Homo sapiens: one gene and its partners. The protein of the gene in region 3 interacts with the protein of the main gene of each other region in a biochemical or structural test. Each region holds a gene or a part of one and is shown on either strand. Other genes may lie near its edges.

Region 1 (7,354 bases), on a different chromosome or scaffold from region 3:
GATATTTATCAGTTCTCAAATAATACTTTTACAATTTCTTATGCCTGTCTTTAATCTCTTAATCCTGTTACCTTCGTAAGCTGAGGATGTGCATCACCTCAGGACCACTGTTATAATTGTGTTAACTGTACAAATTGATTGTAAAACGTGTGTTTGAACAATATGAAATCAGTGCACCTTGAAAAAGAACAGAATAACGGTGATTTTTATGGAACAAGGGAAGACAACCATAAGGTCTGACTGCCTGCAGGGTCGGGCAAAAAGAGCCATATTTTTCTTTTTGCAGAGAGCCTATAAATGGATGTGCAAGTAGGAAACATATCGCTAAATTCTTTTCCTAGCAAGGAATATTAATATTAATACCCTCGGAAAAGAATGCATTCCTGAGGGGAGGTCTATAAATGGCCGCTCTGGGAATGTCTGTCTTGTGCAGTTGAGATAAGGACTGAGATACGCCCTGGTCTCCTGCAGAACCCTCAGGCTTACTAGAGTGGGGAAAAACTCTGCTGTAGTAAATTTTTGGTCAGACCAGTTTTCTGCTCTCAAACCCTGTTTTCTGTTAAGATGTTTATCAAGACAATACGTGCACCACTGAACATAGACCCTTATCAGGAGTTTATGATTTTTCTCCTGTCCTGTTTCCTCAGGAGCATGTGATCTTTGTTCTCCTTTTTGCCCTTTGAAGCATGTGATCTTTGTGACCTACTCCCTGTTCTTACACCCCCTCCCCTTTTGAAATCCTTAATAAAAACCTGCTGGTTTTGCGGCTCAGGTGGGCATCACGGTCCTACCAATATGTGATGTCACCCCTGGAGGCCCAGCTGTAAAATTCCTCTCTTTGTACTCTTTCTCTTTATTTCTCAGCCAGCCGACACTTATGGAAAATAGAACGAACCTACGTGAAATATTGGGGGTGGGTTCCCCCGATATGTGATGTCACCCCTGGTGGCCCAGCTGTAAAATTCCTCTCTTTGTACTGTCTCTCTTTATTTCTCAGCTGGCCAACACTTATGGAAAATAGAAGGAACCTATGTTGAAATACTGAGGGTGGGTTCTCCCAATAAAGTGGTAATGTTGAAATCCACAGTTCTATGGTTAGGGGAAAAGCACAAAGCTTGATTGCATTGTCATTTTAATCACACTCATATTTGTGTAACCAACTTAGAATATAACCAAAGTGAGTATCTGTGGGACGTTGTGAAAGCCCATTTGCAGGGAGCTTTCACATCTAACATCACCTTTGATATTGGTGAATTACAAAACAAAATTCTTGATTTACATAGGCAAATTCAAGAGTTTCAGCCTTCTTTAGAAGACTGGACCAAATTCCAGCAAGGCCTGGAGAGCCTCAATCCTTGGACTTATCTAAGGCACTACATTAACATCTTACATGTAGTTCTTGGAATAATATTGTTTTGTCTCTGTCTTCTGTTCATAGCCTGTAAAATTGGATGGACCACCAATCGGAAAATGAGAGCTGCCCACCCTGGCCTTACATTCTTTCAATTAATTCATAAACAGAAAGGGGGATATTTAGGGAGCCTAAGGCTCGTGGGACTGACCAACTCATCATTCCACTGGAGGCTATATGATAAAACAGCAAACTGTTTATCATGAATGCAGGATGTGGGCAAACTCACGACTGCTCCCACTGCCAGAAGGTTTGCTGAGGGCAATCACTTCCTGGCACCAGGCTCCTTGAGGTTATCTACTGGGACATCTGGAGAATGCAGTCTTGCAAGCCTACTGTGGACTGAGCAGCTGATCCCTTCTTCCACACCCCCCTTCTCACTATCTCTTTTGTCTAATCACTACGGAGGGTTGTGTAAAGCTCAGGGCCCTTGTCCACTAGAGGCAAAGTGCCCCCTGACCGCTTCTTCCAAATATACTCTTTTGTCTCTTGTCTTTTATTCCCACGTTTGCCCCCTTTGTTCAGTTTCCCTAGGTCCATGTGGGTTACATAGTGGCAACCTGAACAATGACAGAATCAGGTGCTCTACAGAAATAACTTTTTAAGGAAAGATTTGGGACTTAGAGACCCCAGGAGACATACACAAAAATGATAAGAGGATGTGCCCAAACCAGTCTTAAAGTTGTGGCACAGGGTGAGGAAGATGAAGCTGTTACTGAACCTCAGAGAGTGACTGGTGTTACAGCAAAAGTTAGCAATGGCCTGAAGGGAGGGTTTCTGAAATCAAATATGAATGATTCCCCCTCAGGGAACCCAACCTTGGGAACTACTGCATGGTTCTCTGTATGGGAAAATATCATTAATGCAGGATAAATTGTGAAATATCACAGGAAGCATCCTGCATCTAGTCAATCTTCTGTTTCTGGGGTGGCCTGTGCAGCTGTGCAGGCAGAGGCCCAACCATCCTGGTGAGTGGCACACAGGGACTGAGATCCAGCCACACCTACCAGGCCATGCTCTGGGAAGGGGGTGGGACCTGGGCAAAGGACACCTCTCTAGGACTGCAGAGAAGCCTTTGTGGGTGGGTGGGACATTCCTGTGATGGCCTTCTGGCTGGGCACTATGAAATGCTCTGAAGATTTTTCCTTGCACTGTTGCACTAACCCCAGTCCTCTATCACTGCCCCTTCCTCCTGGGCGACTTCACTGATGTTGTGGCCATGTGAATTCTCTGGCCAATGAAATGATAAAGATGATATGGCCTCTGCCAAGCAGACACTGTAAGTATTATTGTATGATGCTTTTGTCTCTTTTTTTTAAGTTAAAGCAGTTTATTAAGAAAATAAAGGAATAAAAGAATAGCACTCCATAGGCAGAGCAGCTGCCTCTGTCTCTTATATTTTCCCCTCTGCCTCAAGCCCAACATGCCCAAAATTGGGGCTGCTGGTTCAGCCTGGGTCTCAGAATAAAGACATGAGCCACAGATCCATTGCTGACCCATGATGGAGATGGACACAAGAGAGAAACACATTTTTGTCATGTTAGCCACTAAGATTTTGATTTGGAGGCCATTTGCTACAGCAATATAACCTAGCGTGAACAGAGAGACACAGCGATGTTCCATTTCTTTTCAACCTGGAACAGGAGAATTTCATAGGTGGGCCTCAATTTCACTTTAGTATCTTATTTAGACAAGAAAGTTCATACTGTTCAAATGTCATGTTTAAGAGTGCTGGCATTATCACTGCTGTGGCTACCCCATCAGATGTTGCTCACTGACTAATCTTCTCATGTTAGTGAGGATGGACAACATATCAGGCCATAATTCAAAGTAGCAAATAGGAAAAGAGCTTCATCCTAGCATTATGGGACCTTAATTAATGTCCTTTCCTGACAGGTTTCAGAGGCTTTTGCAGGCAGCAGCAGAGCTATTCATCTCACTGACAGTGGGGAACATGGCCAAATGGTTGCCCCCACAATGGAGGCAGAGTTTCAGGACACTTGTCTGATCTCTGCCCTTGAAGGAACAGTCTCACCCTGATTGACACTTTTGCCTGTTATGTCCAAAGAACCAATGGAAAAGCAGGAAAATTATTCCTTCTTCATTTCTCTCTTCATTATTTAAAATTATTCTGTCTTCACTTCTCTCTCCTTTTCTCTGCTTCCTACTTAGCTCTTTAGAAATGCAATTATAATCTTTTATCTCCCCTTCACCAGACACTCCCAACAGGGCAAGTTCATCTAACTATGTGCTCTTAGTTAGACGCTACAGAGCAGAACTCTCTCCCACCAAGAGACTACCTTGAGACATAACAGTCAATTCACAAGCCAAAATATGCCCGCTATGAAACTCTCCCATCTGGAAATTTTTTGGCTGCTTTTACAACCTAGTTTTGCCCACAAAGGCACCAGCAGTAACCAACTCAACTGCCTGGTAGACAAGGCACCAAAGCCAGTACCCAGACCCTCTACCTGCTCACTTCCTGCCTTGCATGCCACGCCCCCCATTTAAAAGCCTCTGCTTTCTGCTCCAAAGGTGAAGCAGTTACCCTTAAGGAAAGAAGCCTGTACTTCTTCCCCTAAGGTAGCTTTGGAATAAAAGTCACTTTATACCAAACCTAGCTCTTGTTAATTAGACTCTGCAAGTGATGAGCAACTGAACCTACATTTCAGTTATAATTCCTATGCTTGCTCTTCCTGCCCTGCCTTGGGGACACGCACACACTCCCAGGCACATACATGCACGTGCACTGAGACAGCTATGTGAATAACCAACAAGATCCCCTTAGGAAAACCGGTGCTTGGCCTGGCCTTAAATTCCAGACCCTTGGGCATCATACCCAAGACTGCAAGAAAGAGGAGGGGCTGGACCTGAAAAACTTGGAAGGGAAGGTCCAACTGTACAGGTATTTTGTCAGGCATGTGATTTCAGTATAAAATTCTAGAAAAGATGAGTGACACTTTATAAGGAGAGAATATCAACAAAATTTCTCATTTTACTTCTTGCTAAGACGACAGCAGGGAATTGTAAGCAGATGGATGGGCAATCCCCACCTTCAGCAGGGGAGGCCAAGGCCCCAACACACCTGGGGAGAAGAGCTGGGGGCAGTGAATGGCTGAGGCTTTCTTGGGGAGCTGGGCCATCTTCTTCGGTTTTACTTCCTGAGGAATTCACAGGCTTCCAGGAGGGCTGTGGGACACAACAGAGCAAGAGATTCAGAAACTGATTTCTTCCATTAAACCAGTTATTTAATCCAATAAATCAAAGAGAATACTAAGAGTTTTCTCTGCCCTTCTCCCATCACTGAGTCAGTGCTTGCCACACTCATATTCCCACTCCCCTACTCCTAGCGACTACGGTGTTCAAGGGAGCCAGAGTCTAGCCCTCACCAGCCAGGGTGTTTCCCTGCTCTGGCCTGAGAGACACAACCACCCTGCACTTGTCTCTGATTGAATCGACTGTCACATTCTCAAGTTCACAAGACATTGGTGGTCCTCTAGCTTCTCCCGGAATGTGAACCTGTTTGCAATCATGTTCACCTGCAGATTCACTCATTCATTCACAGATCCTTACTGAGCACCTGCTTTGTGTGAGTTGCTGTGCTAAGTGCTGGGGACACAGCATGGATAGACTGGCCTGCCCTCAAGAAGCATGTGGTCTATGCAGTCCTGAGCTGGCTGCTCACAAGAAGAGCCCTGTAGCCATATTTCTCAGAGGGTGGTCCTGACCTGCATCACAGTGACCTGAGTTGTTTGTCAATACAGAAAAGGGTTTCTCAACCTTGGCACTATTGACATTTGGGGCCTGATAATAACCCTTTATTGCAGGGGGCTGGCTGTGCTTTGTTTAGTAGCATCCCTGGCCTCTACCTATTTGTTACCAGCAGCACCCTCTATGTTGTAAGAATCAAAAAAATGCTTCTCACATTGTCAAATATCCCCTCAGGGGAAAAATTGTCTCTCATTGAAAACTACCGATAAAGACATTTCTGGCCCTGCCCCCATCCTTGGACCAACAGCATCCCTAATGCCCCCAACTCTGGGTGAGGGACCAGGAATAGGAATCTGAATGATTGCAGTGCACAGGGAGCTGTGCACACTGAAATCCCACAGTTATCACCGGGAGCCTTACAATACTCTGTGATGTCTTCTAAATATTTTTAAGGGATTAAATTAATATCAACATATTTCCCTGGTTAAGATGTGTTTTCCTACACTTGAATTTTTTTGAGATTTTGTTTTCTCTATAGTTGGCATCTATGGTAACTGTCTAGAATCAGATTTTTTTTTTTTTTTTTTGAGGAAGGGTCTTTCGGTGTCACCTAGGCTGTAGTGCAGTGGTACAATCATAGCTCACTGCAGCTTCAACCTTCTGGGATCAAGCAATCCTCCTATTTCAGCCTCTCAAGTAGCTGGGACTAGAGGTGCTTGACACCACACCAGGCTAATTTTTAAAATTATTTTTGTAGAACAAGGTCTCTCTGTGTTGGCCACATTGGTCTCAAACTCCCGGGCTCAAGCCATCCTCCCACCTCTGCTTCCCAAGGTGGTGGGATGACAGGTGTGAGCCATCACACGTGGCTGGTTTTGTCATTTCTCAATGCATATGTATATATGCACCTTTCATTTTACTGAATAAAATGGATTATCAGTTTCCAAAGATTTCATGACAGTGCCATCACTATCCGTACTATAAAATTTATAAAAATTTATTACATACTGCTCTATTTTATTCTCTAATTATTTTATCAATGAGATTATAATTTCCTGAACTGTAAAGAGATATTATCTTTCCTTAACATTTTTACACCTGTGTTCGTTCCTAGAATGCTGTTTGGCCCTCAAACCTTGACCTTCACCCATGGTGGTTTCTCGGGGATGCTAGCTAGGGTCTACTTACGGGAGGTTGAGCACTTTTTCAGATTAGTAATGCCTGCGACATACTGTGGTCCCAAATATTTTTCATATGTTGTTTTGCCATGGAGTCTGGCCAGACACTCAGTGTTGTCATTGAACAGAAGGTTTTTGGTTTCAGACTGGAATAAGCAAAACTTGTCCGGGCAGTCAGATCCATTTCTCCCAAATTTAGCCTGCGACAAAAGGGCAGACAGTGAGTAGCTAAGGAAAAGAGGAATTTATGGGTTAAAGGAGGCAAAGGGGTATTTCTTCCACCCAAGAACAGCCCTGAGAAAACCATGGGGCAGAAGGAGCTGAGTTCTGGAGTCATTCCACCTCCTTAGTGGAGTCCCCCACCCCACACTCCTGGTGGCAGGCCCGCCTTGGGCAGCATCCAGGCCTCGCACCACTTCTGGTCCTACCTCCTACCATCTGCCATCTTTCCTTCCTTCTTAACCTGTGACCTTTTCCCATACAACTTCTTATGGGTGACAAGGCAACAATGGAGGGGTTTTGAGATCTGCCCTCACAAGTCAATTGCTCAGGACATTCTAATATGCAGCTCTTCTAGAGAGGCAGGCTGCTAGGAAAACCCAGGCTCAGCCACTAACCAGCTCAGTGTGCAGGTCGGTCACCCTGCCTCCCTCACACAGTTCCTGCTCTGTCCCAGGCTCCCATGTGGGGAGACTGAGACCCAAACCCCTCAGTCACGGCAGCTCTCTCACCAGCACCACTGTGTGTGCACATTAAGAGCTCCATAAAGGCCAGTTATGGTGGCCAGTCTTGTTATTCCTGAGTTGTTTTCTTCAAAAGCACACAGAGACATGATGTTATATGATAAAAATAGAAGTTCTAATAAAATCCCAGATTTTAAGAAAATTTTGGGATTTCGTTCAAATCACATTTAGAGAGCCCTAAATCTATAGGGCACCTTCTGAGTTTGCTGTTTTAGAGGCCTGGCCTAGAGCACTGTTCACTCGGCCCAGGTTCAGGAAATGTCACCTGAGTAAAAAGCACTATACTAATGCATGTGGGAGGAAGGCTCAGT
Region 2 (7,973 bases), on a different chromosome or scaffold from region 3:
AAAATATTTTAAATTTAAAATCAGATATGTTAAAATATGTTAAAATTAAAAACAGGGCTGGGAATACAGTGACTCATGCCTGTATTCCCAGAGCTTTGGAAGGCCAAGATGGGAGGATTGTTAGAGGCCAGGAGTTTAAGACCAGCCTGAGCAACATAGCAAGACCCATCTCTACAAAAAAAAAAATTTTTTTTAATTATCTGGGCGTGGTAGTGCATGCCTGTAGTCCCAGCTACTCAAGAGGCTGAGGCAGGAGGATTGCTTGAGCCCTGGAGTTCAAGACTACAGTGAGCTATGATTGTGCCACTTCATTCCAGTCTGAGGATAACATGAGACTCTGCCTCAAAAAAAAAAAAAAAAATTAGAACCGGATTATTATGGCATGAGCAACATGACATTTTTTGAGGTCACAGAACAACTGTTCTGTATCTTGGCTATAGTGGTAATTACATGACTGTATCCATTTGTCAAAACCTAGAACTGCACACCAGAAGGAACGAATTGTGCTTTGTGTAAATTTAAAAATAAATAAATAAATAAATACAAATTTAAATGTCCCTTTAATGTGCTTTGACGTCCCTTTAAAAAGCAGGGCTTCTTTTGTAAAGGAATTTGTATTTTTTGCCACAAAATCAGTTACAAAGTCAGTATTTCCAAGACAGTCTTTCTTAATTGTAGTTGTTAGAGAGACAGACTGAAACATGAGGAGAGAGAGATGAATTGTGATTTATTGGTTTACTCATTTAGGCCTGAAAGGGATTGATGAAATCACATTTAAAATGTATGACTTTACATGAACAAAAGTAAACCAGGCTGATTGAGAGTCCCCTTGGTATCCAGGTCTTTCTGACTGTCACCACAGCGAGCCACTGGAGCACTGGTTTGGGCTTCCCTGGAGGCGGCATCCCAGCGCTTGTGTGGTTGGGGAGGCGCTGGCGGGACAATGTGAATAAATTAGACTGTCTTTGTCATCACAGATGGGGCTCCTGCCGGAGAGCTCAGTGTTGTGGCTCTCTGTGGCTGTCAGGCAACGTTAGACATCTAGGATCTTGGTTCCCGGGGCTTTGGCTACATTCAGGCACATGGGTTGGGCACCACCCTTCAGAGGGCCCTCAGATGGGTACAGCTGAATGAGTGGGTGGATCAGATAGAGGGGGAGGAAAGCAGCCTGGGATGGGGAGGGCAGTCTGTATTCAACTCACTGGTGGGCTGCTGGGACACCCAGGGGCTATGGGGCTCCAGAGGGCAGCCCCAGGATCAACAGGTGGGAGTTACAGGCTTTAGCTCTAGGTGAGGATGCACCTTCTTACCAGTGGAGCCCTCCAAAGACAGAATGGCCTGGCTCCGTAGGTGGTGAGTTCTCCATCCCTGAAGGCATGCAAATGGAGGCTGTGCGAGCATGTCATACGTGGTCAGGCACAGAATCACAGAGAATCAGGATGCTAAAGAGCCTCTCTAGTTTGAGACTGTGGCTCTAAGGCGATTTTCCAGAGATTTTTTGGCACTGGCTTGACAGGGTCTGCTTCCCAGTCTGTCTGGAGGGGCCAAACTAGTCTCCTTTCTGCACCCTGATCCTCCTGAGCATTGGGGTGTGATGCGACGCTGTCCGTCACCTCCTTCCTCCTGCCTTCTGTCTCCTCCCTTTGCTCTCCTTTTGTATTGCAGCCTTATCCAGGTGCAGTCTTGTGGAGAACAACAGGGCTGTCCTTGAGTCACCAGGCAAAGCCCTAGGAGTTCTAGACTCTGCAGTTTGATGGCCTGGAAATGAACATGTTTGTTCCTTGATTTCTCATGTGTTTGTTCATCCAGTCATCCTTTTGCTCCTGGCCCTCACTTGCATATCACATTAACTTACACTTTTCACTCATTCCATGGTTAGATCAGCCTGACCGCCCTAGGAAGCAGGGGTGTGATCCCCACCTTATAGATGACAGCTGGGTGGGAGCATTCCCTGGCCAGGCCTCTACACTGCACGTTGCCCAACACGCTGTGGTGCTGGATGCCAGGGTGGCTGAGTTGCTGTCCAATGCAGGTGAGAGCAGGTAGAAACGCCTGGCCTTGATTATTCCAGCCCAGTGTGAGCAGAGCAGATGCCAGGCATGGGGAGGAAGGCAGAGTGTGGAGTAGGAGTTTGAAACATCTAACACTGGGTCCTGTCCAGGGAGCCCATACCCTCCCTCTCCTCTCCGTCATGTTCTGGCAGTCTAGAACCACATTTCCCTGATTCCCTGATTTGCCCAGGCTTGGGTCGGCTTCTGGGGATGGGGAGGCAGAGGGAGTGGGGGAGCCCTGGGGAGTCTTTACCCTGTGCATGCAAATGGGCATCTTGAATGGACCGCAGGGGATTGAGCTCCAGGGTGTGTGCAGCTGTTCTTCCTGGCATTCTTCTTCCTAACACCCTCCACGTGGAAGGAGAAAAGCCCATCTGTTAGAAGACTCTGCCGTTGGTGGCGTGACACCAGCCCCTCTAGGAGTCGGCTGCCGTTTTTCCTGGTTGAGCTATAGCAGATGGCAGCCGGAGCCTGGAACGGACCCTGGGAGGGAGCACTGAGGCCCAAGCTCTGCCACAGATGGTGCTGGGGGAATTTGGGAAGTTGCCCTTCCCCTCTGGACCCCTGCTTTCCCATTGGTAAAACAATCATTGGATCAGGAGATCGGTCGGCAGCTTTCCAGGTCTGAGGAAATCTCTCTTTTAGGATTCCTGCCCAAGCGTGATGTGCCGCTCCCCTCATGTCAGGACATCACAGCGGGCTCTCCGCGGCAGGGGAATTTAGAGGTGGGTTGCTTGGAACCCTGCAGGGTAAAGGCTGCGTCTCCTTGTCTCCTCCTCCTAGCTCCTGTGGTCGTCGTTCCTCCCCGAAGTGTTCACAACGTCACCGGGGCGCAGGTGGGCCTGTCCTGTGAAGTGAGGGCTGTGCCTACCCCAGTCATCACGTGGAGAAAGGTATTTCTGTCCAAGAACTCATGCATCTCGTGTGTGTGTGTGTGTGTGTGTGTGTGTGTGAGAAAGAGGGAGAAACAGACGTGAGTGGTAAAAATGTTTTTCTTTTAAGTGTGTTTATATATATATGCCTTTATAGGTGGGCCAGAGGATGAAGAAAAGATATCATCTGTACCACTCCTCTGCCTCGAAACTTCTACCCCAAACCTCTCCCCTTGGAAGGGAACATTGCAACCCTTCCTGTGCCACTTACACCCTTGGCCACTTAGGGACCCAGAAAGCTGTGCTTTTACCCAGTCTGCTTCAGCTGCGGTGGCCATGTGTGTGTGTATCCTGCTTCACTTCGGGGCTGTGTTTCAGACAGACCTGGCTGGTGGCAGAAGACTCAGTCCTATTCCAAAACCAAATCTTCTAAAGACCAGTTTTTGAGAGACCGGCAAGGATCACAGCGAATGTTGTCCCCTTAATGTCAATAGCCCTGAGACAGGCGTTGAAATTCTGAATCTTTCTGTGGGATGGTGGTGATGTTCGGGTCTTTGCTGTCTGGCAGAGCGTGCTGTCTATATGTACAAGTAGGTTTAAAAAATGACTGATGTCATTTGCATAGGCATGAGCAGTGCTAGGGTTTCCGTTTTTGAGTCAGTGGGAGGAGGAGGAAGGAGGAGGGCAAGGAAGCCTATGGGATGGTCTTTATCCAGAATTGCTTTTTCTAAGCCCCCTCCTGGCATTCCTGTCCCCTGTAGGTCACGAAGTCCCCTGAGGGCACCCAAGCACTGGAGGAGCTGCCTGGGGACCATGTCAATATAGCTGTCCAAGTGCGAGGGGGCCCTTCTGACCATGAGGCCACGGCCTGGATTTTGGTGAGTGTTTAGGATTATTGGATATTATTGACTGACCATTATAAACCATCCTTTATATTTCTACAACACATTACATGTTTCAAAGCTGTTCTTACCCATTTCTCACTGGCCCCTCCAGTAACTGTGAGGCAGGCAGGGCAGGTTTCAGATCTGCTGGGAACATACGTGTTCTGCTGCCAGGGGCAGAGTGATGGCCCCACAGTGATGTCCACCACGTCCTCACCCCCAGAACCGTACGATGTTACATGGCAAGGTGGTGGGAGGGAGGTTGTGGTTGCTAAACAGCTGAGATAAGGAGATTTAAGATAAGGAGATTAGCCTGGATTATCCGGGTGGGCCAATTTAAAGGTGGGTCTTTAAGTGTGGAAGAGGGAAACAGAAGAGTCAGAGGCAGACTGAAGTGATTCGATGTGAGGAGGACTTGACCCACCATTTCTGGCTTTGATGATGTTGGAAAGGGCCACAGCCAAGGAGTGCCAGCATCCACTAGGAACTGGAGAAGGCAAGAAAATGAGTCTCCTGAGAGCCTTCAGAAAGAATGCAGCCCTGCCGGCACCTTGATCTTAGCCCCCTTTGGGCCTCTGACCTCCAAAACTGTAGAAAAGAAATGTGTTTGTTTTAAGGCACTCAGCTTGTGGCGATTTGTTACAGCAGCCCAAGGAACTAGTACACCTGCCTAAGGTCACCCGCTGGTAAAGGTAGAAGGTGGCACATTCGAGTCCTCCTCCAGAGCTCTTTCCTGCCACTCGCAGCACTTTTACCAAGATGAAGAATGCCACATGTTTGAAAGAGTGATGGAATGAGGAGATAGGGGTCCATGTTGGGTCGTCACTGTACCCTTCTGAGCCTCCATTTCCACTGTTGTTGAAAGAGGGCTTCAAACTGAAAGACCTCTGAGGGCCTTTGTGGCCCTGGCAGTCTGTGATTTACCTGTGAGTCTCCTGTAAAAAGAAGACCATAATGCTCACCCTTCCCCCACGACTGGCATGAGTTTAAAACGAGCTGATGTGCGTACACCAGCGCGTGGTCGGTAGGATGATTTGTAATTGATGGAAGCGGTTGGTTGTAACGAGAAAGCAAAAAAGACGCGAGCTGGTTATGGACCTGGCTGTGAACATCCTTGGGGTGCTCCCTAAGGACAACCTCCTCATTCCACCCACAGCTCTGGGAGGCTTGGTGACTCTTCTCCACCCAGCTGAGAGATTGGGAATGCAATTGGCTGTGCGGTTTTTTCAAATCAAGCACATTCCTCTATTTTCTTAGGAGAAAAGACAGGGAAAAGAGGTTATCTCTGGTGGTATTTTGTAGAGGCTGCCCCTATAGGGAATACTTTCTGGATCATTCTTTGGTCAGTAGATTTTTGTTCTTCTTTTAACTTGAGGTGTTTTCCAAATAACCTATACCTTGCACCTTTAATACAAAAGACCAGGTAGCTCACAGTAAAAGGCAGGTGTGCGGAGGAATCATTCAGATGAGAGCCACAATAGGGAGCGTGCCTTTCAAGAGGGTCCCTGGGAAGGAAATTTACCTGCGTGCTCCTTGGCAGCCAATGCAAGGAGAGAAATAGAGCAAGTTTTACCTTATTCTGAAAAGGAGGAAGTGTGCAGACTTATCATTAAGAACTAACTAAGGAAGTCATTTTGCTGTTCCTTATATAACTGTATAAACTTGCCTGTTGTATTTCTAGATCAACCCCCTGCGAAAGGAGGATGAGGGTGTGTACCAGTGCCATGCAGCCAACATGGTGGGAGAGGCTGAGTCCCACAGCACAGTGACGGTTCTAGATCTGAGTAAATACAGGAGCTTCCACTTCCCAGCTCCCGATGACCGCATGTGATGGAGAAATGTACATGTTCTAAGTCATTTTCAGTATTTTACACCCATGTTATGAGATATTTGAGGTGGCTTATAAGACCTGTAAAAAAAAGAAGAAAAATACGTAAATGGAGGAAACCAGGGAAAGAGCAAAAGAAGAGTAGGGACATACTTAGATGAGCAGTAGAATCCCTGGTATATTCTGCACACATCTCCCTCTGAGCTTCTTAGCATGCAAAGACAAGAGCTGTGAACATGATGTGTGTCCATGAGATGAAAAGACCAGTTGTGTTTTGGGGCTGGAGGGAATATTTCCTCTGTATTCTTCTAGAAAGAGCACTGAGAGAGGTAGCAGACAGTGTCATTGTGACAGCGTCCATGTGAAAATGTTCCCACAAAGAAGATGCCTGAGCTTCCTTTGTGTGTTCCTGGAGCTCTTCCTTGTTCAGGACACCTGAGCTTCCTTCCTGGGGCTCAGGCCTTGCCTTCCTGTCCTCAGCACTGTGTGCTGCTTTGCAACACATCTCCTTGTGGGTAGGGGCAGAGAGAATCTCTGCATCCCCTCTGGTCAAGGCCTCCTAGTCTGTAGTCACACAGGTGACAGCTGGGGTTGCATCTGTTCCTTGCCTACAGGTGAACTGGGAATTCGGGAAAGGGATCACTTTATAAGCCAGCTTTTGCTCATAAAAATCCCAAAATCTTGCTGGTTCACAGCCACAGACGTTGATCACTTGCTCATGTTCCATGTTATAGCTGTGAGCTGGCTGTGGCCCTGCCCCATGTGTCCCCTCATTCAGGACCCAGCTGGAGGAACAGCTCCAGTGTGGAACATGTCCGTTCTGTGGCCAGGCTGCACACACCATTGCATTTAAAGTTTCTGCTCGGATGTGATGTGTGCCCCGCCCATTTACAGACCAATCATTTTTTTTTTTTTTTTTTGAGACAGAGTCTCACTCTGTCACCCAGGCTGGAGTGCAGTGGTGCGATCTCGGCTCACTGCAAGCTCTGCCTCCTGGGTTCACGCCACTCTCCTGCCTCAGCCTCCCGAGTAGCTGGGACTACAGGCACCCGCCACCACACCTGGCTAATTTTTTTGTATTTTTAGTAGAGACGGGGTTTCACCGTGTTAGCCAGGATGGTCTTGATCTCCCGACTTCATGATCCGCCCGCCTTGGCATCCCAAAGTACTGGGATTACAGGCGTGAGCCACCGTGCCTGGCCTGCACGATCCTCTTACAGGAATGGGGGAGCAGTGGTGAACAGGCACCATTACCAAGGCTGATCAACAGGTGCTTAATAGAACAGGAAAAATTAGAAACAAGTCTGATAGGGTTTCTCAAAAGCAGGGGGATTTTGCCATGGTTTTAGTTATATTATTCTTTCAGCCACTACTGTTGCACACCTTCTGTGTGCAAGGCCTTACTTCTGGTCTGTAGGGGATCACAGAAAAACAAAAAGTGGACATAATTATAATACAAGGAGTGCGATGTAAGGGAATGGGAGGAGATATTAAGGCATGAAAAGCAGCTTAGAACTGGGGAAAATGAAGGAAGAATCATCGAGGAGGTGGCATGAGGATTGAAGGATGGGTGTACGTGAGTAGTTAGAGGCCCTAGAAATGGGGAGAAAAATATGAAAATGTAAAACTGTGAAATAGGAATTCAACAAAGAGTTAGGAGATTGGGTCTTAAAATTGTCTTCCTGATGATATGTGACTTGTTTTATATAGATATGTTTCCAGTTTTAAATATATATATCTATAATTTTCAAATACACGTATATTTTGAGGCAGAAATGATTCTGGGTTGTGAATACATCAAAAGGATACCATGAAAAATTGTGGAATTTTAAGAGCATCACTGCTGCCTAGGTCTTGAGTTCCTTCTGTGACACACAGTATTGCCAGCTCTGGCTTACATACCTCCAGGGATACAGAGCTCACTACCACTGAGAGCCATCTGTGGATTTTCCAATGGTTGAAAAGATCTTATTAAGCTGGAGTCTGCTGCTTTGAAACGTCCACCTTTTGGTCTTAAAAGTACTTCTTGGGACTCCACAGGGCCCTTCACTCTCCACTGGCACCATTTCCTGCTGGGGAGAGATTCGAAGTGAAGGATCATTTCCCCCACCTTCCATGTAACACATAGTTGATTGTAACGGAGCAGGCTTACGTTCTCTAATTCTTTCTCTCCTTTTCTTCCTAGGGTCTTAGAAACATTGATCATGGGATGATGGAAAAGTCAAATAACGGATCTTTGTGCTTCATGAAGAGTTGGAAAACCTGTGTGTGTAGATGACCCCTTTTGTGTGTTTTTAAAAATTAGATGCAAACTAGATCTGTATGCAGATGTAGTTTT
Region 3 (7,973 bases):
CACAAAATGCTTCATTCTAGCTTCTCTCACCATAATATGCTTTCACTAATTATTTCATAACTCATTTAAATGGGAGGCATTCTAGAAGAGAATTCACTGAAACAACTCCTCAAGTAATTAATTATTTTTTAAAAACACAGGGGAATTTTAATTATAATGCAGGTGTTATTTAAAAGCAGAGTGTGACAATTTGCATCTTGAACATCTATTGTAATAGGGAAGAAAAAAATATGTCCCTGAATGAAATAACAAGTCAAGAAATGCAATTTAGTTGGCCTTTTATTTTCTTGATTTTTAAGAAGCAGAAAAAAAATATGCAAACTTCGCCTGAATTGTAAAACCACTTAGAAAGATAAAAGATTACCAAATTGTGTTCCTAGAAAGATCATTATTTATGAGCTTATTTTAAAAATTATATGCTGTCTGTTTTTCTGACACAGATTTGTCATGTGTCACTATTGAATGTATAGCTATGATAGCAAAATCTTCTCATCTTAGAAGAAAACATCTAAATCATAGTGTTTCCCACAAGGAGTTGACATTTTCAAGGGACTAAGTGGATAAATCGATTTTCATTATTATTATCATTATTACCATTATTGTTATTTTCCTTAATTTGTATTGTGGAGAGTTTCATTGATTAAAAATAAATGACTGATTACATAAGAAATTGTTTACAGCGTTCTGAAATCTAGTCCTTAGATTGAGAAGCAAAGTGATAAGGGAATAAGTGTGCATCTGGATTTAGACTATCTAAGTCCCAATCTCTGGCCATAGAGCTCTTAGCTTTTTCCAGTAAGTTCTTAACCTGTCAATTTGGGTACTTAAATCACAGTTTCTGAGCATTACAAGGTAATGTATAGAGATTCACTTTCTGAAGCAGAAACTGCTATAAAAAGCAAGTCAGTGGTTTTAATGTTAAAATGTAAATGCTGAAAAATTAACAAAGACAAATCTACCTGGACACAAATACAATATAATGTATCCAGCAGTCAACATTGCTTTACCCTTGGAGGAGCCTGTCCCACGCCATCCCCAGAAGTATAAATGCAAGCAGAAGTACCACTTAGGCTCCAACCGTGCTCCTTAGAGTGTGCAGGGCAAGTCAGTGGACAAGGAGCTGTGTGGGTGGGTAGGTGTGGGGAAGGGTGGACAGGGGGTCATGGTTGTATAAAAAAGCAAAATAAAATGGGATTTTTATGTTTATTCATAGGAAATCTATTGTTATCTAGTCTTCTTACATATTAGAATTAATTCCTCATCCCCAGGAGGGTACCAGTTGTGTTAAACTCCAAGTCGAGACCAAGTGAACTCCCATGAACCAGCTTCAGTGAATCTTTTTCAGTTGAAAAGCCATTAAGAAGGCTGAGAGGAGTGCCCTGTACATGTTTTGGAAATGATTGCAAGGTCACTCAATCTCAAACGCCTGCTCTGGTCAGTACAAACTGTATTGATTGCATTAACATAATAGTAGATCCAGTGGTCAAAAATGAATCTTTTATTCCAAGGGATTTGGGCACTGCTTGCCAAAAAATCTCCCATAGATTTAACTTTTTGAAAACTTAATTCAGGCTTGCCAGTTTGTGTTCACAGATTGCAAAGGCAGATATCTGATCCAAGATTACAATATGTATGTCTCAGGATTTGTTGCCTATTTTTCATTGCCCTGAAAAAAAATATTTTGCATCATCACATGGGAATATTGAAAGTTGTTCATTCCTAATAATTATTAAAATAACACAATAATAATAATTGTTAGTTCTATTTATACTATGGCTGTCATTGAATAAGAATCTACTCTGCACTAGAGCTTTACATCCTAGATGTTGTTTGAAAATTACCACAGCCTTGGGAGGTAGGTTATTATTATGTCTGCTGAACAGAAAATACTCCAGAGGCTCAGATAGCTGGCAACGTTTAGAGTAGGGAAGATGTGCTTGGCCAGATGCAAGTTCATTTTCACGGTAAGGGTTAGGGAAGGAATGAAGAAATGCTCATGCTTTTTCCTTTTTAAGTGGCACTTGAATATTCCCAAACAGTCAATTTTCTAATCACAAAGTTTTCAATAGTTAATTAATTTGTAGGCTATTGAGATATAAAGCAAATTATTCCAACTCAGTTTGTTAAGAGTATGTTTATGTATGCACATATATGGGTGAGTTTGATCTGCTGAAATCCAGTGAAGAAGGAGGAGGAGTAGAAGGGAGACAAAGAAGGAGAGGTAGAGAGGAGGATGGCAACAGCGGAAAGCTCTCTTTATATGGCATAAAGCCCCAGGTCTTCATTGGTAAGGCAAATGTCTACTATTAACATGACATACTTTGCTAGATACACAGTAGAGGGGATGGTAGGAAAGCTTCATAGATAAGTTCAGCGCTGCTTCCCTTCTTCAGCTGTTCTCAATCTAGAGGACTAAATAGAAGTATACATGGCACAGAAACACTGCAGCATTTTAGATTAGAGCTAATTGGATAAAAATAAAATTCCCAAATTTCAGCCAGTATGATGAAGTTGCTTTCAAATGGAGGCTTAATAGCCCAGGTATTCTTTACTGATAGAACTCAAAATGACTAGAAATACTGAGAGTCAGTAGCCTGTTACTTTGCAACTTTTAAGAAAATGTTGGATGGAATGATAGTTCTTCGTTTATCTTTCCTACTTTCCTTCCCTCTCCAGCCAAGTGTGCACTCAAGCCTTTAAGAGCACTTGAGAAGCTCCTAGAAAATAGGATGAATGGTGCATGGCAAGATCATTGTGTAAAATGTGCTGACTGATTAAAGACAGATTTCATTTGCTACACTTCTTTTTATCAAAAGACACTTTGAGAAAGCAAAAATGGAAGAGGGACATTATTTAATATGGGCTCTATACAGCACCTGAGAGTACAAAACATTTTTTTGTTGTTGTTGTTTTACCCAAGCAAAGCCTACTGTTACCATTTAGTGGTGACTGGTTTATTGAGTGCTAATGCTTTAAAACTGAGATTAAATCAGGTCCATGGTCTTTATTACTGGGAAGATATATGCCCCTTGTGAATTCTAGTGGTTTGGCAATCTTAACCTCAGCAGACATAACATTGATGTATTCTGTGTTGCCAAACAGCATGGTAAGTGTTTAAAATGCTGTGAACAGCCTTATTGCCTTGAAATGATACAATCTAATATGAGATTTTAACTCAGTGACTGAATCCGTGTGCCTATCCTTGTACAGAATACTAAAGTCCAAGCCACTGTATTTTAATATCTCACAGCGAAGGAACTCTTCTTCATTTCACTACTGAAAGACAGCACATGTAAATGTGAATGTAGATTGCATGAAGACTGAAACTGCAATGTAACAGGCCATTTTCATTAACAGTGCATAGGCAGCTGCCTTTCATAATAAGGCATCAAAATATCAGCCTGCTTCATTCAAATCAGCAGACCTCCTCTGGCCTTGTGGACAACTGATGGGTGGGATCTATGAGGCCAGAAATTCTCTAGTGACTGAAAGTCAAATTGTCCCCTTTCCACTTCATTTGGAGCATTCTGAGAAAGCTGCTTTTACCAAATCTGAAGGATTTATTCCACTTGTTTCTCCTAATCAATCATAATTAACATTAACATTCAGTTCTCTCTACACTTTATACTCATCAATCAAATTTCAGACACTCATCACTCCAAGGTTCCAGTTACTTTATAGCCTTGATTTTCACCATCAGGATGTCACCTGGCCTGTCTCCTGAGTAGAGGGGGTTTTCTGCATCTGCACCTCAGTCTGTCATTGCTAAAGCAGACCAGGGACACTTTGAGGTAGAGTGACCCACTGTCCTGGTTTTACCTGGCACTGAGGTGGCTTCCCAGGATATGGGACTTTCAAGTGCAAAAGCCAAGTCAGTCCAAAGAAAAGCAGAATGGCTAGCCAGTCTACCTCTAGGTAAAATCTGGCTTAACTGACTATGGAAAACTCTGCCTTCATCAGTTTGGGTGGCTATCACAAAGTATCTGGACTGGGTAGGCTGTAAACAACAGACATTGATTTCTCAAAGTTCTGGAGGCTGGAAATCTGAGATCAGGGTGCCAGCATGATTGGTTTCTGATGAGGGTCCTCTTCTGGGTTGCAGATTACAGACGTCTCATTGTATCCTCACATGGTGAAAGGAGCAGGGGTGTTCTGTGGTTACTTTTATAACGGCACTAATCACATTCATGAGGGCTCCACCCCATGATCTAATTATCTCTCAAAGGCTCCACCTCCCAGTGCTATCACATTGGGGGTTAGAATTTCAATATACACATTTTAGGGAGAAAAAACATTCAGTCTACAGAGTTCTTAGTGGAGAAAAGCTACAGAAGAGTGGTTTGAAGCTACATATGGGAATTAACCACATATCTATGAGATGTAATTCTTTATAGCACCACCTGACAAAATCACATCTTTCAGATTTCAACTTTCTCAGACCCTCACTAGGAGAGTGCATGAAGGAGTGGTGATTCTGCCCAATTGTCCTGTTATTGATGAAAATGAGTTATTCTGATCAGTCTTCCAAGATGAGACTAGACTAAGTAGGACCTGGGAAAGAAAACCCATAACAAATGACTAAACAGCCTATGATTCAATATTGTTTTTATTGAGAACTAAAGATTACGTTGAAAGCAGCCCTTCAAATCTGCTTACCCATTCATAACTTAAATTTATTTCAAGTTCAATCTGCTTGCCTTGCTTTATGGTCAATATAAAAGTTAAAAAAAAAGACAGGTTTTGGTCAAATCTTTATAGAAACAAGTAAAAAAACTGATTCTTCACTTTGCAGGTCTAACATTTCAGGGGCCAACAGAAATAATTATGAGCTGCCTTCTAACCAGAAGAGTGGGGCAGAAATAGCAATATCATGGGTTCCAGAATGGTCAGTACCATTTTTTCAGAGTCTACATGACTTCAGTGTATCCAGGTGAAAACAAAAACTGTTCATCTTATTACTCAGCTGTTGAGCCAACATGTTACCAAGCGTTAAGAAATTTGGAAGCACTAGAAGGAATTTTTATTTCTTACTTGACATGTATATGTTGTAGGCCATGCCACTATAATTAAAATAAAATTTACTCTTCTTAAGGCCCCACAACAAAAAAATGGACTCTGCAAAAGTTTAGCATTTAATGAAGCTGTAAAGTAAAATTAGCAAATTATATTTTCTAATATTTTTCTGTTAATGAGAAGTCCTCCCTTAGATATAAGTAGTAAGTCAACTTGAAACAGTTTTGTTTAAAAAAATAATCTCATAACTTTACGCAGCCAGTTGAGGTCCTATGACTGTTTTCTAAGATAATTTAAGGAGAAAGGTCAGTCAAATCCATGACAGAATAAACATGAATCTTTTTACATCTTTCCTTTTTCTTAAAAATGTGCGTTGTTGGTGAAAATGTAAATTAGATAGCCATTATGAAAAATGGTTATGTAGCTTTCTCAAAAAACTAAAATTAGAATTACCATATGATACAACAATCCTACTTATGGGTATATATCCAAAGGAATTGAAATGAGGGTATATAAGAGATATCTATACTCCATGTTAATTGCAGCATTATTCACAACAGCCAAGATGTGGAATCAATCACGAATGGGTAAAGAAAATATGAGATATATATATATATGTGTGTGTGTGTATATATGATATACATACACACACACAATGGAATACTATTCAGCCTTTAAAAAGAGTAAATCCTGTTATTTGTGATAACATAGATGAACCTACAGGATATTATGCTAAGGGAAACATGCCAGGCACTGAAAGAAAAATACTGCATGATCTCACTTACAGGTAGAATCTATTATAAAAAAGTCAGACTCATAGAACTAGAGAGCAGAATGGTTACCAGAGGCTTGGGAAGATGGGGCGTGGTAAGGAATGGAAAGATGTTTGTCAAAGGGCACAAGGTTTCAGTGAGAGAGAAGAAATAAGCTTTTAATATCTATTGCACAGCAACGTATATATCAAAATTGCTAAAAGAGTAGATTTTAAATGTTCTCACCACAGAAAAGAGAGAAGTATGTGGTGACAGATATGTTAATTAGCTTGATATAATCACTCCACGATGTATACATACATCAAAACATGACATTGTACTTCATAAAAATATATAATTACTTGTCAACTTAAAATTTAAAAGATTTTTAAAATGTACATTATTTCTACAAAAATTATTTTCTCATCCCCAAAAATGAATAAGAAGAAGAGAGGAAGGAGGAGGAGGAAGAGAAGGAAGAATCCACCTACCTGCTACTGCAACTTTTGCTGTCCGACTAATAATTGAGCCAGAATCTCCTAAAGATGCCTCACATTGGTAAAGTCCCTCATCTGGCTTGTGGTGTCTGGAATGAAGTATGTTTTGTATCAGCAGAGACCCATTTGAAAGTTGCTGCTTCCTTTCATCCATTCCCAAGGCCAGATGAATGCCATCTTTCTTCCACTTGATCACTGGAACTCCTCGGTCGGACTCCGCGGAGCAGTCGAGGAGGACATTTCCTCCCCGCATTGTGACGGCATCAGAAGGTTCTGAGAGGAAGCGCAGTGCTGTGAAAGCTTTAATTTGAAAACCTGGAACAAGAGAGCACAGGGAAATATGTTCATGTATTCAAATAAATCTCAGGCTTAGATTCCCTGTCTTTTCTTTACAAAGCTTTTCACAAAAGCTGAGGGCTTTGAACAATGTCCAAGAATAAATAAAAACTAAAATCAAGGATATTATGTTAAATAAGCAAAAAAGTACCCAGTCGAGGTAATCATAATTAAGAAAACAATTGGCTCCAAAAGTTAATATTATGAGAAATTACAAATTCATATAAATCCTGGCATGCTTATTACCACATATCAGTCAGTACATGAAAATTTAGACAGAAAAAACTAATATTTTCCAAATAAAATTAGATATTTTAAAGTAGCAATAGTTATTAGTGTGGTAGCTAAGACTTTTGGGGAGACTATTTCTATCTCTTCATTCTGATTATGGCATCCATTGAAATTTTTAAAAAATCCAATCTGATACAGGGTTCTATAAGAATAAAAGTCAACTCTGAACAGCATGGGCAAAGTTATTTAGGACAAAGCTCAGGTGGGTTTTAAAATAGGTAAATCCCACTGGCAGAAGCAAGTCAATAAAGCTACTACCTAAAATCACAAATCCCTGAAGGGTCTTAATTTTCATCCAAATGTTTCTCATGGGCTTGGAAATCTAAATAAATATTACAGTTGAATTTGTTTCATAAACGTAAATGAACATAAAGAATCAACCAAGGGTAATAGAAATTCATTTAAGAATCTTGAGGGGAGGAAGCAAGTATAATCAGTTAAAGTATATTGTTTTTGAAGCTGGCAGTATAGCATTTGACAGAATACTCACATGTTGAGTCAAAGACCTTGACAAGGTTTCAGGAGGTCATTGGCTCCACCATTTGCTCAGACAGGTGTATACTTAAATCATTCAAGTCAAATTACTTTCAATTTCATTTTGAACAATCTTTGGGGCTAGAGATTCTACAATGTCCCTCGGTATCTTGTTTTCAATATTTAATCATTTTAAGAGTCTAACTGAATTTTCTTGCTGATGTTTAATCCCATTTTCTCCTGAAACACCTTGTGTGAAAATGCAGAAGAGATGGACATTTTCTTTAAGAGCCCTTTATTTGTTTGAAATGGCATTTCATTTCTTAAAAAATACCACCTAAATTATGTTTTAGTCTTCATTTTTTTTTTCCACGATAGCAACCTTGACTTCATTAGCTTCCTTCATTTTTCTGTAATGGGAACACTTTTCGTTGTACTTTGTAAAATCATTCCAATCTTCTGTCATTTAAAAGGCAGGCATCTAAATTGCAGGTAATCCATATTCTCATAAGGGGTTAACTCATACTGGTCCTGATGGACAGAACTATTTCTATCTTTGTACACCCCATTTTACAGTGAAGAGAAAGCAGAACAGCTTCTTACGGTTTCT
Region 4 (8,049 bases), on a different chromosome or scaffold from region 3:
CATCTTGATAAAGCCCAACATATCTTGTTTTTCTTGTTTCTCATGCTTTTGTATCATATCTAAGAATCCATTACACATTTGAGTTCATCAATATTTACCTCTATGTCTAGTTTAAGATGTTTTTATGGTTATAGGTCTTATATTTTACTCACTCATCAATTTTTTAGAGAATTGTTTGATATGGTGGGAGGCAGAGTTATCTAAATTCACTGTTTTGCATGTGGTTATCTAGTTGTTTCTGTACTATGATTTGAAAGGAGAATTGTTCATCCATTAAATTGTCTTGACACCCTCTTCAAGGAGTAATTGACCATAAGTTTGAGGGTTTATTTCTAGATTCTTAATTCTATCCCATTTGTCTTTATGTCTATTCTTTTGCCAGCAGCTTATGTCTATTCTTTGGCAGCAGCTTCCATTTTAATAATTGTACTCTTTTGTGAGATTTCAAATAAGAAAGTTCAAGTCCTACAATTTATTTTGGCAAGATTGTTTTAGCTACTCAGGGGTACTTTTTTGAAAGGTGGGGAGGCCAATGTTTCACAATTGGGAAAGCCTTTTCTCTCTTCTTCAGGGGGAAATTTGGGAGAAGCTTTTAAGAAACTTTATCTAAGTAGGTAAACTGTCACCACTTTATTTGCTGAAGTGCTATGTTAAAGTGTGCATTGCCTCTTGTGGAAGAATTATGAGACCCTGGAAGCACTTGCCCATGTGGTGAGAGACAGTGAATTCCACGATGAGGGGCAGAGAGGACATTGTTTTGGGATACAGTGTTGTTGGGGGAGTTGTATACATCTCAACTTCTTTATGTCTCTGTACAGTGGGTGTAGGGAGCAGCCCCACAGGGTCGTTGGGTTTTTCTCCCTGTGTGTGGAGATGAGAGATTGTGGAAATAAAGACACAAGACTAAGAGATAAAAGAAAAGACAACTGGGCCTGGGGGACCACTACCACCAAGATGCGGAGACCGGTAGTGGCCCTGAATGCCAGGCTGCACTGATATTTATTGGATAGAAGACAAAGGGGCAGGATAAGGAATGTGTGCCATCTTCAATGATAGGAAATGCCACCTGTGTCACATGTCCACTGGACAGGGGGCCCTTCCCTGCCTGGCAGGTGAGGCAGAGAGAGGGAGGAGAATGAGAGAGAGAGCTTACAGCATTATTTCTGCTTATTAGAGACTTTTAGTACTTTCACTAATTTGCTACTGCTAACTAAATGGCAGAACCACGTGTACAGTATGGAACATGAGGGCGGACTAAGAGTGTGACCACTGAAGCACAGCATCACAGGGAGACGGTTAGGCCTCTGGATAACTGTGGGTGGACCTGACTAATGTCAGGCCCTCCACAAGAGGTGGAGGAGTAGAGTCTTCTCTAAACTCCGCCGGGGAAAGGGAGACTCCCTTTCCGGTCGGCTAAGTAGTGGGTGTTTTTCCTTGACACTGAGGCTACCACTAGACCACGGTCCACTTGGCAAAGGGTGTCTTCCCAGACGCTGGTGTTACCGCTAGGCCGAGGAGCCCTCTAGTGGCCCTGTCTGGGCATAACAGAAGCCTTGCACTCTTGTCTTCTGGTCACTTCTCACTATGTCTCCTCAGCTCCTATCTCTGTATGGCCTGGCCTTTCCTAGGTTATGATTATAAAGCGAGGATTATTATAATATTGGAATAAAGAGTAATTGCTACCAACTAACAATTAATGATATTCATATATAATCATATCTAAGATCTGTACCTGGTATAACTATTCTTCTTTTATATTTTATGATACTGGAACAGCTCATGCCCTGAGTCTCTTGCCTCAGCACCTGGGTGGCTTGCCGCCCACAAGTGGGCATCTCCATTGGACACAGTAGGTTTTGAAATCCTTGTTTATCCTCTGGGGTCTGGGTCTTGGCTTACCTATTAGCTGCAACTGAAAGAGGAGTCTGTTAAGTCAATGACTCCTGTACGGAGTAGAAGGTTTCAGCAGAGTGAAAGTAGCTGGGGTTCATAGAAGCCAGGAATGTCTGACTCTTAGAAACTGTGTGTCAGCAGATGGGTGTCCTCAGGGGTACATGGGCCATGCCAGTAGCCACTGCAGTGGACTGGAAGAAGGTAAGGGATGCTGGGTATCCCATGTTCTCTCTCAGCTCTGCAGCTGAAGATTTGGGCCCTGGGCTTGTACGACCCTGAAGCAGGGGAAGGGTATACAGGAATGGCTGCATATCAGGACCAAGTCCATGTCATCTTCTGAGGCATTGTTACTGCAGATGGAGGATTCTGTTCAGAGACCAGGCCTGGACACATGGGAGGGCCCACCCCATTCTTTTAAAATTGTTTTAAGAGAACAGTATTAGCAAATGTAGTACATGTTTTATTCTGCTAGAATCAGTCTTACTGTCACGTTTTACAATGTATCTCTTAGGAAATGGTGAGAGCCATCCACACAATGTGCATTTAAAGGGGAGTCTACTATAATTTCAGCTTTCCTACTCTTTATAGAAACCATCTTCTCTGCAAACACACAGGCAATATCTCTGTGTTCATTTCTATTGGGAGCCCTGTATGCAAGATGGAGAGAGCCACATTTCCTCCTGAGATGTTATGTAAAAGTCTGAGGTTGAGATGACATATCTGACACTCTGTTGTTACCCTCAGAAGCTCCTATACTACATGTGAAATTCTAATGACTGCATTATCCTGCCAAGTGAAAGAGGCAGGCACAAGCAAGGACAGCTAAGAGGGGTGAGAGCCTCATCATGATGGGGAGTCTTATTCTGACATCTTGGGAAAAGCTGTCCACAGTGTGAAGTCATCAACTTGTTTTCCTTGTTTACAGTTTGAGCAGCTGTTGTTATGGTGTTGAACATTTTGGTGAGTTCTGAGTGGCTCAGACATCAGGTACAAGGATTTTCCCATGAAATTTACATTGAGTTGTCCAACTCTGACTTATAGGGCTTCTGGAACAGAGTGGGTCTTGCTCTTTGAGGTTCCATGGGAGAAGATGGAATTGGAGGAACTAGTAGAATTCAGGGTAATGTCCAGTCTACAGTGGATAATAAAAACACAGAAACAATGAACAGAGCTGCAATCTCATAACAGGTGTACTACGGTTTTATTTTCCACATAATTTTTCTCTCTATGGGCATCTCTAGTTTTACCAATGATAATTTCAGTAGAATAAGTTTGTTTGCAAAATAGGTTGAGTTTCTTCAAACTTGGTCTGATTGTTTACATAAGTGCAGCAAGAGTAGCAATGGACTATGTAGGCTCTCTTTTAAAATTTTCTTTGCTGTAAGTTTTTATAAGGAATCTCAGATTAAACCTTTACAAAACTCTTGAGAATAGGAAGCCAAACCAAGGCTGACTTCAGAGTTTGCCTGCAGTTCATACTGGTTCATTCTAGCTATATTCTTAAATATAACATCCCAGTCAAAGCCTTGGTAATATAACCAATGATTTGAAATGTGTCCTGTTACAAAGAGAGCAGGTTGTTACTCTGTTTGTGCAAATATCTGTATTACCATAAACATATCAATACTCATGAATAGTTGCCCAATTCTGGGGCATTCAGGTAGAGAGCAAAAGTAAATATTTCAATTATCATTCCCAGAAGTATAGTTTATTGAACCACTATAAGCTAGAGATAGATTAAAAGACAAATTTCCATAAATCTAGAAAACTATCCACATAAAGAATCAGCATATTTTCAAATAAAAATCATAAAAACATTATCCTCATTATTATCAATTATTTCAATGAAATCAATGTTTTTCCTGCTTGGTCTAGGCTGGGAATGTTATGAAGATATCAGCCTGTTTGTTAAAGTTTTCGAAGTTCTTAGACAAATTTGGAGGGTTCAGGAGGAAAATTTGGGATTTGCTTGTGCCCATGGGACACAGGCTGGGAATACAAATGTTTTCCTGACTTTTCTCTGAAAGTCAGATAGACTGCACCTAAAACCCTATTGCCAAGGATGCTGGGATCCACTTACCAGAGACTCTGACTGTCACGGATTTGGAGCTTTCCTTGCCAGTGGCTGAGTTACGAACAGAGCAAGCATAGAGCCCGCTATGCTTTGTAGTAATCTGGGGGATAGAAAGCTTTTGTCCTGATAGCTGAAACTTCCCATTAATTGTCCAAGAATACTGTGCCGGTGGGTTAGAGTCCGCAAAGCAGGACAAGTAGAGGTTTTGTCCTGAATGGTAATAGGTGAATGAAGGGTAAATTCTGGGGAGGTCTGGACCATCTGGAGGAAAGAGAATAAAGCCACAGGTGATGTTATCCGAGGGAAGGGGATGCTCCTGGTCTCTTAAAGGGACAGAGTGACCCTCTGAGCCGAGACACACCCTCAAGTGACAGCCAAATCCCCTCTATGTTCACTGAGCCGAAGCCTGAGGTATTCACCTGTTTCTCCCATCACAAGCTGTGGGCCCCAAGTCTCCCATGACAAGAGCGTCCACTCCCCTTATATTCTTGGTTAAGGCTGTGCCTACCCAGGTTTTCCCAGGGCAGGGAGTCATGGCCAGCTCGGATGTCCAGAAGTAAATATGTCTATACTTGGACCGGAGAGAGACTGAGAGGACTGGCCTCTGGTCGTTTGGAGTTAAGCTGGTGTCCTGGCCCACAGAGGAAGAAAGGATACTCAAGGATACTCACAGAGGACATTCAGGGTGACTGGGTCACTGCGGATGCCACCATATCGGTCCCGTATTTCACATTGATAGGGTCCTGTTTCATTTCTCGTGACACTGGGTAGAATGAGGATCCTGTTTTCAATGCGTCGCTTTACCCTGGGACTGACCGGGAGGCTCTGACCATTTAGCCACCAAATGTAGGTGTAGTTCTCACTCTTAGGTTCACAGGTGAAGGTTGAGACATCCTTATTCTCCCTGGGGTTTAAGTTATTGATGGTGATGTAGGGCTTGGGCAGCTTCGCTGTGTGAATAACAGAGAGAAGATTGTCCTGTGTGGCACCTTTGATTCCTCCACAGGCATCCTTCAATTAGAGTTGGCATCTCCCACCTGTCAACACGTGTGAGTCCTTGAAAGCCAATAGCTGGTGTGTGTGTCACAAGGTAGATGCATGATGATCTAAGGGCTCAAAGACTGTGAGGCCACCTGCTCAGTCTTAGGGAAGCATAGACTTTCTCAAGTGTCAATTGAGCAGCAGTGCTGGGTCATGGACAGACATGTCAGTGGGAGTCACAGCGCCTGGTACCCCTCCCAGTCCCTCACTAATGAGTTGACTGGCTGGCTCACCCTGGGTTCATTACCTGGAATGTGCAACTGCTGGGCCCTTTCCAAATTGCATCCTACTTTGCCCCCCTAGATGTGATTTCTCTGCAACTTCCATTTCCAAGGACATTCTAGAGATGAGTAATAATGGGACTTCCCATTGTCCTGAAACCCTGCAGATACTGAGCAGCCTGGCCTGGGACTGGATGTTTCAGCAGAAATAACACAGGGGAGACCATAGTCAAGCCTGGAGGTCAGTTCAGTCATCAGGCAGTGGAGGCTCAAGGTGGGGCAGTTTTTTGCAGGTGTTTCATGATGACTTACTTGAACCAGTGACCTCTAAAGATAGAGCAGAGTGCAAGGAATGATCTAGAAAGAGTGAAGGGGACAAGCAAGAGCTGGTGGTTTTGGAGCAGAAGCATGTTCCCTGTCCTGGGTTCTTTAAGTTTCCTCTCCTTCTGCAGAGGGCAGGTGAGGACCATGTGGATCTTTCCAGAAATACATGTGGACATTTGCAAATGCAGAACTGACTGGTGGAAAGTGTGGGAATGAACTGCTGGAAATCTGGTCCTCATGGACCATGTGTGTTTGATGGATATAAGACAAATTTGGAGAGAAGTTTTGCAAATATTTTCTTTCACTGGACATTCTACTCTCTGATTCCTTGGGGTTGACTACTCTAGGGACCTCATGTAAGTGGATTCCAGAGTGAATATGAGAAGAGACTGCTGGTTGCCAGGAGCTGGGAGTGGGGAGAATCAGAAGTTGTTCATGGGTGGGCAGTTTCTTTTATGCAAGATGGGGAGTTTCTAGAGATCTGCTGTAGAGCTTGATGCCTATAGTTCACAAAGATGGAGTATTTCTTATGCCTACAACTTAGGACAAAAAGTGTTTTGCATTTCTTTCATTTTTTGATTCTGAAATATTTGTCATATACTTACTGGTTAAGCATCCCAAATCTGATAGATTCAAAGTCTAAGATGCTTCAGTGAGCATTTCTTTTCAGCATCAGATTAGTAGGCATAAGTGGGAGGTGATAAGCCAAAGATATTCTTGCCCTTTTTTTTCTCTCACCACGTTTCTAGCTTGGTGATTAGTTTTCGGTGAATTCCATACTGGCCATGCTGCACTTGTATATTTTTGAATGCCTTGGCATGTGAGAAAGGCTGATTGCTATTTTCTATGTCATGAGAACTTTCCACCTTTTCATGGTTGCATCTTTTTCTCAGTGTTTTTGTTGTGGCAGTCATTAAGAAGAGCCTGTCAGCTCAGATTTAGGACAGAGTTTTCTAATTCTGCAAAAAATGTTACTGGGATGCTGGTAGGGGTTGCATTGAATCTGCAACTCACTTTGCGTAGTATTTTCTTTCTAACAATATTGATTCTTCCAATCCATGAAAATGAAATGTGTTTCCATATATTGATATCATCTTTAATTTGTTTCAGGAAGGTTTGTAGTTTTCAGGGTATAATCATTTGACCTTTTTGGTTAAACTTATTCCAAAATATTTTATTCCTTTTGATGTTAATGTGAATTGAAATTATTTTCTTAATTTCTTTTCAGATTGTTCATTGTTAGTGTATAGTCTGAAGAATGATCTAGAAAGAGTGAAGGGTACAGGCAAAACCTGGTGGTTTTGGAGCAGAAATATATTCCCTTTCCTGAGTTTTGATTTTCCCTCTCCCTCTGCAGAGGGCAGGTGGCTCTTCCCTGATAGCCAGATAGACTTCCCTGGAAAACATATTGCCAATGCTCCAGGGATCCACTTACCAGGGACTATGATCCTCTTGATTATGAGATTTGTTCCACCAGTGGCTGAGTTATGGATGAAAGAGACATAGACCCCTCTATATGTTTTAGTGAATTGGGGTATAAAGAACACTTGTACTGATTGCTGGAACTTCCCATCAATCAGCCAAGAATGCTCGGCCAGTGGATGAGAATCTGTGAGGCAGGGGAGCTTGGGGACTTCTCTTGTATGGTAATAGGTGTATGAGGAAAAAATGGTGGGGGCATCCAGGCCATGTGGAGCAAAGAGAATAATGTCACAGGTGATATTGTCAGAGGGAAGGTAAAATCCTGGTCTGTGGAAGGGCCACAGTGACCCTGTGAGTCAAGTCGCAACACTGAAGTCCCAGCCAAATCCCCGCTGTGTTCATGATCTGGAGCCTGAGACATTCACCTGTTTCTTCCATCACAAGCTGTGGACCCTGAGTCTCCCATGACAGGAGCAGCCTCTTTTCTCTTATTGTGGATCAAGCCTAGGCCTACTCTGGTTTGCCTGGGGCAGGAAGTCACCACCAGCTTTGATGTCCAGGGGTAAAGGTCTACATACTTGGACCTGAGAGGGACTGAGAAGCCCGGCCTCTGGCCATGTGTATTTGGGATGGCAGCCTGGCTAACAGAGGAACAGAAGATACTCACGGAGGAGATTCAGGGTGACTGGGTCACTGCGGCTGGCACTCACTGGGTTCCGTATTTCACATTCATAGGGTCCTGCAGTATAGTTTGTGACACCAAATAGGTAGAGGGTCCTGTTGGTTTCAGACAGCTGCAAGCTGTGAGTCATAGGGAGGCTCTGACCATTCATCCACCACAGGTAGCTTGCATCTGGAGTCTCAGGATCACAGGTTAAAATCACAGCCTCCGTGGCCTCCCTGGGGTTGAAATTGCTGCTGGAGATGGAGGGTTTGGGAGTCTCCACTGTGCGGAAAACAGAGAGAAGATTGCCCTGTGTGGCACCTTTGACTCCTCCAAAGGCATTTTTCAATCAGAGTTGGCATTTCCAACCTCTCAGCCCACCCAAGTCCTTAAAAGCCCATGGCAGGTGT

What was found.
Region 1: the proteins of DCC (region 3) and LTF interact in a biophysical measurement, tested with the Homo sapiens proteins (one large-scale study listed by IntAct).
Region 2: the proteins of DCC (region 3) and IGFBPL1 interact in a biophysical measurement, tested with the Homo sapiens proteins (one large-scale study listed by IntAct).
Region 4: the proteins of DCC (region 3) and PSG7 interact in a biophysical measurement, tested with the Homo sapiens proteins (one large-scale study listed by IntAct).

What each region holds. Positions count from the first base shown.
Region 1 is NC_000003.12:46,431,630-46,438,983, forward strand, and holds the end of LTF (lactotransferrin isoform 1 preproprotein), read right to left. Parts: intron 6,501-7,354; coding exon 6,311-6,500; intron 4,601-6,310; coding exon 4,566-4,600; 3' UTR 4,016-4,565; downstream 1-4,015. UniProt on the Homo sapiens protein: Transferrins are iron binding transport proteins which can bind two Fe(3+) ions in association with the binding of an anion, usually bicarbonate. Lactoferricin binds to the bacterial surface and is crucial for the bactericidal functions.
Region 2 is NC_000009.12:38,409,065-38,417,037, reverse strand, and holds part of IGFBPL1 (insulin-like growth factor-binding protein-like 1 precursor), read left to right. Parts: intron 1-2,834; coding exon 2,835-2,944; intron 2,945-3,684; coding exon 3,685-3,801; intron 3,802-5,488; coding exon 5,489-5,638; 3' UTR 5,639-5,647; intron 5,648-7,820; 3' UTR 7,821-7,973. UniProt on the Homo sapiens protein: IGF-binding proteins prolong the half-life of IGFs and have been shown to either inhibit or stimulate the growth promoting effects of the IGFs in cell culture. They alter the interaction of IGFs with their cell surface receptors.
Region 3 is NC_000018.10:52,750,658-52,758,630, reverse strand, and holds part of DCC (netrin receptor DCC), read right to left. Parts: intron 6,578-7,973; coding exon 6,257-6,577; intron 1-6,256. UniProt on the Homo sapiens protein: Receptor for netrin required for axon guidance. Mediates axon attraction of neuronal growth cones in the developing nervous system upon ligand binding. Its association with UNC5 proteins may trigger signaling for axon repulsion.
Region 4 is NC_000019.10:42,921,800-42,929,848, forward strand, and holds the end of PSG7 (pregnancy-specific beta-1-glycoprotein 7 isoform 1 precursor), read right to left. Parts: intron 7,922-8,049; coding exon 7,643-7,921; intron 4,918-7,642; coding exon 4,639-4,917; intron 4,229-4,638; coding exon 3,974-4,228; intron 3,026-3,973; coding exon 3,009-3,025; 3' UTR 2,333-3,008; downstream 1-2,332.